2 linked regions of the Homo sapiens genome follow. The protein of the gene in region 1 purifies or fractionates together with the protein of each later gene. This does not show direct contact. Each region holds a gene or a part of one and is shown on either strand. Other genes may lie near its edges.

Evidence for each region.
Region 2: the proteins of CDIN1 (region 1) and CABIN1 purify together in Homo sapiens (affinity purification with mass spectrometry, with the first as the bait; one large-scale study listed by BioGRID). This does not show direct contact.

Annotation. Positions count from the first base shown.
Region 1 is NC_000015.10:36,582,626-36,586,125, reverse strand, and holds part of CDIN1 (CDAN1-interacting nuclease 1), read right to left. Parts: intron 1-3,500. UniProt on the Homo sapiens protein: Plays a role in erythroid cell differentiation.
Region 2 is NC_000022.11:24,014,304-24,017,803, reverse strand, and holds part of CABIN1 (calcineurin-binding protein cabin-1), read right to left. Parts: intron 1-3,500. UniProt on the Homo sapiens protein: May be required for replication-independent chromatin assembly. May serve as a negative regulator of T-cell receptor (TCR) signaling via inhibition of calcineurin. Inhibition of activated calcineurin is dependent on both PKC and calcium signals.

The sequences.
Region 1 (3,500 bases):
TCGAAGGTTCTAGGAGCCGGAACTAGTCATGAGGTGGTCCTGCTAGATGTTGGTCAGACTTTGTCAACTAGGCAGTTTCTGGAACAGAGTTTATGAGTATGGGTTGAGCACATAAGGCTGAATGAGCTCATGATAAAAGAGTTCAGGTTTAGTCAGTAATTGTAGTTTGGTCAGGTAGAGCCTGTTTTGTGAGTCACAGTACAGGTTAGCAAGTTATGGTTATATTTCCACTCTCAAGTAATACATATGTAAGACTCTATAGTAAAACATACTAGTTCTACTGTACACTTCCAATTTTTCTTCTTGTCCTTATGAAGCAATGCCATTGTCATATATCACAAAATTATTTTCCTATTATAAAACACCTTTAGTTTTATTTGTTGATTATAAAGCTATTAAAGAGCTTCAGAATTTAAAAATAATAATAATAATAAAAGTAACATTAGAACTACCAGCTCCTGAGCACAAACCAAGGCAGACACCACCTTAATCAAGTGAATAAGGTTAACGTCTCCAATAATAAGACATATGAAGTCACAGACCCTGATGTAATGCACTAAGTAGGCCACACCATCACTTCCAGGGTACTCTTGCCAAAAGTGTTTACCCTCAATCTAACCATGAGAAAATAAACATCAAACACAAAGGAAAGGACATTCTATAAAATTGACCAGTACTCTTCAAAAGTGTCAAAATCATAAAAGACAAAGAAATAGTAAGAAACTGTCACAGATTGGAAATGACTTAAGACATTACAATTAAATCCAACGTGTGATCCTAGAAAAGGGACATCAGTGAAAAAACTAGCAAAGTTCAAAAAATGTGTCTGTAGATTAATGATATTGCATTAAAATTAACTTACTGATTTTGACAATCGTACCATGGTAATGTTAACATTAAGAGAAGCTGGGTGAAGGGTATATGAGAATTCTCTGTAATATTTCTGCAACTTTTCTGCAAGCTTAAAATTATCCCAAAAACTCTCCCAAAAGTAACAAATAATCAAATATATATGTAGTGTTTGGGCAGGAAATTATAATGTAAAATATAACCTTATAAGTAACAGCTGATTGGACCAGGGGCTTCTAAGAATGTCCACAAGAAAGATTAAAAAATGTCAATCAATAAATATGTCCTCAGCAAGTACTTCAAATGTAGTATGTCCTATGTTTCAGGTGCCAAAGGGCCCATTACAGAAAGTCTTCAAATAACGTTATTTTGTTCAACATTATTTTGTTATAAAGTTGATGAGTATTTTTAAAAATTGTTTCCTGGCTGGGGCCACTGTCTGTGTGGAGTTTGCATGTTCTCCTGACGTCTGCGTGAACTTTCTCCCAGTACTCTGGTTTCCTTCCACATCTCAATGATGTACGTGTCTGCAGAACTGGCATGTCTAAATAGCCCCAGTGTGAGTGAGTATGGGAGTGTGTGTGAGCGTGTCCCGTGCTGGGATGGCTTCATACCTTGCAGCCTGAGCTGCCAGAGGCCACTCAGAATCCTAAACTGGAATAAGCGGGTTGGTAAATAAATGAATGAATAAGTGAATAAATGAATGAATACAAATTACTGTAAAATAAAAATTCATAAATCTATGATAATCATACAAACGCATGACAATAAAGATGCAGTACACAAGTGCTCAGCAAGCTCACCACATTTGTTATTGTTTGCTTTTTGTTTTTTGTTTTTAGAGACAGAGTCTAACTGTTGTGGCTCAGGCTGGACTGCAGTGGCACGTTCCTAACTCACTGCAGCCTCAAACTCCCAGGCTTAAGCAATCTTCTCACCTTAGCATCCTGAGTTGCTGGAACTACAAGCATGTACCACCACACCTGGCTAATTTTTAAATTTTTTTGAAGAGACAGGGTCTCGCTCTGTTGAACAGGCTATTGTTTGCTTTTGAATACATGGTGGTAAGAGGTGCTTCTCACAAATTTCACTTTGCAAACACATACTCTTAGATTTAATCCACCACCACTATGACCACCATCACTCACTGATTCACCAAAAATTGGGTAAATAATTATCTTACTTGTTTAGGCTCACATTAATTTCAATGTTTAATATTAGATGTGTTTTGGGTCTTTATTTTATTTTTTATGGTTTTTTTGAGACGGAGTGTTGCTCTGTCACCCAGGCTGGAGTGCAGTGGCGCCATCTCAGCTCACTGCAAGCTCTGCCTCCCAGGTTCATGCCATTCTCCTGCCTCAGTCTCCTGAGTAGCTGGGACTACAGGCGCCCGCCACCGTGCCCAGCTAATTTTCTGTATTTTTAGTAGAGACGGGGTTTCACTGTGTTAGCCAGGATGGTCTCGATCTCCTGACCTCGTGATCTGCCCGCCTCAGCCTCCCAAAGTGCCGGGATTACAGGCTTGAGCCACAGTGCCCAGCCTTGGGTCTTTATTTAGAAGTTTGGTGATGTTATTATGACCAGAAATATGCTATAGGAACTTAATTCTTGTTTATAACAATTAGCATATGGTAAAATTGCTCTCATTATACATTGTTTCACTTAAAGTTGCAGTCTCCAAAGCCCTACCGAAGACATTAAATGATGACTTACTGTATGGTAAAACTGTAGAAACGAAAATAGAATGAGGGTGAATTTTGGAGTTGTAAGATATTACAGATCACAAAGTCCTACTCCTTCATTTTAAAGTGAAGGATTCTGAGACCACGTAAAACACAGTGACTTGAAAAAACATAATTTTGTAACTTCAGTCAAAACAAGCCATGAAGAAGTGAGGCTACCCCAGAAGTCACAGTAAGAGGAAAAATTAAGCTGGAGAAAAAATTAAGCTACATCTTCACCTCTCAGCATTTACTAAAATAAATTTCAGCCAGAAAGATTTAAAAATTAAGAATAAAAAACAAAGCCATAAAGAATCTAAAAGAAAATTTAGGTGAAATATTTTTTTCTTTCATATATTAGGACAGAAAAGAACTTCCTAAGTATAAAGGCAAAAATGTCAGAAAAAAAAAGCATACATTTAAAAGTTAACCATATCAAAAGCAGAACAATATTTAAAATCAAACAACTGAGAAAATTTATGCAACAAATATGACATATATAGGACCAGCATCCTGAACATATGCAGATCAATAAGTAATAAATCAATAAACAATAACAACAGACATGCCAACAGAAAATTAGGCAAAGGATACCAAACAGGTAATTCAAAGGAAAATTAAGTGGTCAAAAAAATTTGGAAAAAGGTACAACCTATAATAATTTTTAAAATGCTAACTACAAGATGTCATTCTTGATCGAACATATTAAAGATTAAATAATGACTCTTCTCAATACTGGAAAAGTTGCAGAGACAGAGACTCTCACGCTCTGCTAGTAAAAGGACTAGTACAATTTTTTTAAATTTGTCAGTATACATCAAAATCCTTGAAAACATAATTATGCTTTGATTTGAATTAGCTAGTGATTGTCTAAGTGTGGCTGTGGACTTGGAGTCCCTGAGACCCTCTCACAGGTCTACAGGGTCAACA
Region 2 (3,500 bases), on another chromosome or scaffold:
AAAAAAAAAAAAATGGTGAAAGCAACCCAACTGTTCATGACAGATGAATGGCTAAACAAAATGTAGTATATACATACAATGAAACATTTATTATTCAGCCTTAAAAAGGAAGGTAATCCTGACACATGTCACAAAAAAGAAGGCAATTCCGAAATATGCTACAACGTGGATGAACCTTGAAGACATTACAGTAAGTCGAATAAGCCAGTCATAAAAAGACAAATATTGTACGATTCCATGTATATAACGTACCTACAGTAGTCAAATTCATAGAAACAGAAAGTAGAATAGTGGCCACAGGGCTAGGGGAGGGAAGAATGGGAATTCCTGTTTAATGGATACAGAGTTTCAGTTTGAAAAGATGAAAAAAGTTCCGGAGATGGATGGTGGTGATGGCTGCATAACAATGTGGATGTATTTAATGGCACAAAATGGCACACTTAAAAAATGGTTAAAATGATAAATTGGGTCAGGCGCAGTGGCTCACGCCTGTAATCCCAGCACTTTGGGAGGCTGAGGCAGGCGGATGAGGAGGTCAGGAGATGGAGACCATCCTGGCTAACACAGTGAAACCCTGTCTCTGCTAAAAATACAAAAAAATTGGCTGGGCATGGTGGCACGCGCCTGTAGTCCCAGCTACTCGGGAGGCTGAGGCAGGAGAATTGCTTGAACCCAAGAGGTGGAGGTTGCAGTGAGCCGAGATCGCGCCATTGCACTCCAGCCTGGTGAGGGAGACTCCATCTCAAAAAAAAAAAAAAAAAAAAGATAAATTGTATGTTGCTTATATTTTATCACAATTTTTTTTAAAAAGCTAAAGAACAGAAAAACAAAAACCTGGTAGACAAATGGAGAAAAAATACGAACAGATAAATCACAAAAGAAGACGCAACTAGCTCTAAAACATATGAAAAAATGTTCAAATCATTCATAGAGATATGCATATTAAAACAAAACAACACTAGACACTATTTCTCACTGCAAAAATTAAAGCATGACAGCACACACTGTTGGCGAGGTTGTGGAGAAACAGGCGCTATTCTCATACACTGTTGGAAATTGGTACAACCCTTCTGGAGGGAAATTTGACTATATCTGAGAAAACTACATATGCATTTACCTTTCAACCCAGCAATTCCACTTCTAGAAACTACCCTGAATATGTACCTCCAACAATACAAAAATACATATGCACAGAATTATTCACCGTGCAGCACTGTTTGTAACTGCAAGATAATGGAAGCAGCTTAAATGGCCATAGATAGGAGAGTAGATGAATAAACTATTATAACGTACTATGGTACATACTATGGTACATTCATGTAATGAAGTACTATGCAGCTGTAAAAATTAATGAGGCAATGTTCATAGCAACATAATTCAAAATAATGCATAAGTAGAAACCCAAAATCCATCAACTGATAAATGGATAAACAAAAGGTGGTATATCCATAAAATGGAATATTATTCAGCCATAAAAATAATGAAACACTGACAACATGGATGAACCATGAAAACATTATCCTAAGTGGAAGAAGCCAGTAACAAAATACCACATATTGTATGATCCCATTTACATGAAATGTCCAAAACAGGCAAATTTATAAAGTCAGAAAGTGGATTTGTGGTTGCCTAGAGCTGGGGGAAGACAGGATGGGAAGTAACTGCTAATTGCTAATGGATCAGGGTTTCTTTTAAGGGTGATAAAAATGTTCTAAAATGTATTGCGATGATGCTTGCATAACTGTGTATGTACTAAAAACCACTCAATTGTATACTTAAATCGGTCAATTGTAAGGTATGTAAATTATATCTCAATAAAGATGTTTTTGCTTGTTTGTGTTTTCTTGAGACCGGGTCTCGCCCTGTCGCCCTGGCTGGAGTGCAGTGGCGCGATCTCGGCTCTCTGCAACCTCTGCCTCCCGGGTTCAAGCGATACTCCTGCCTCAGCTTCCCGGGTAGCTGGGACTACATGCATGCACCACCATGCCCAGCTAATTTTTTTTGTATTTTTAGTAGAAAGGGGTTTCACCATGTTGGTCAGGCTGGCCTCAAACTCCAGACCTCAAATGATCTGCCCACCTCAGCCTCCCAAAGTCTGGGATTACAGGCGTGAGCCACCATGCCTGGCCTCAATAAAGATGTTTTTAAAAATTAATGAGGGGCCGGGCGCAGTGGCTCATGCCTGTAATCCTAGCACTTTGGGAGGCTGAGGCGGGCGGATCACAAGGTCAGAAGATCGAGACCATCCTGGCTAACACGGTGAAACCCCGTCTCTACTAAAAATACAAAAAATTAGCCAGGCGCGGTGGTGGGCGCCTGTAGTCCCAGCTACTCGGGAGGCTCAGGCAGCAGAACGGCGTGAACCCGGGAGGCGGAGCTTGCAGTGAGCCGAGATAGCGCCAATGCACTCAGGCCTGGGCAAAAGAGCGAGACTCCGTCTCAAAAAAAAAAAAAGAATGAAGAAGATCTCTATGAACAGATATGGGGTGATTTTCAAGACACACTATTCTTTTTTTTTTTTTTTTTTTTTTTTGGAGATGGATTCTCACTCGGCCGGTCACCCAGGCTGGAGTGCAGTGGTGCAATCTCGGCTCACTGCAACATCTGCCTCCCAGGTTCAAGCGATTCTCCAGCCTCAGCCTTCCAAGTGGCTGGGATTACAGGTGCCCACCACCACACCCGGCTAATTTTTTTGTATTTTTAGTAGAGACGGGGTTTCACCATGTTGGCCAGGCTAGTCTTGAAATCCTGACCTCAGGCAATCTGCCCACCTCAGCCTCCTAAAGTGCTGGGATTACAGGCATGAGCCACCACGCCTGGCCTAAAACATACTATTAAGTGAAAAAAGCAAACACAATTATCTATATAGCATGTCACCTTCGTATAAGAAAGAAGAGGATGTGAAAAAATACACAACTAACTGTTCACTTGTGCGAAAGAAACACGAGATAATCCAGATACCAAAGTTAGCTATACAGGGTAGGTGGGAAAGCGGTGAAAAGAAGGGGTGAATGGGAACAGGGCAGTAGGCATAAGAAGGGAAAGACACTTCTCTGAGTATACCTTTGTGTGTAGCTCTGACTCTCAGAAATCAGTCATAATTCATACCGCAAAAACAACTAAAATCAGCTAGGATGCAGGGGGAACTCAAAATGAAATATAAACACTAACAATGAACCTAACTATTACAACTAACATAACCACTCTGAAAGGCATGAGGAAGAAAGGAACTAACCTAAGTAACTGTAGAAAATGGTATCTTGACTGGATAGGCTAAAGACAAAAAGAACTGATTCCAGAGTTGGGTCAGAGAAAACACAAGATGAGCCTGGAACACCTTGTGGTGTGCCATAAAGTAAGTGCTTGAAGGAAAAAAAAAAAAATGAGGGCCAGTTGATAGGCCACAGAAGCTAACCTGAAGGAGATCCTAACTAAATAGCCAATGCTGGAACAGTAAGCAACAAAATAATGATGATAATGAATTTTAACTCATAGAATAT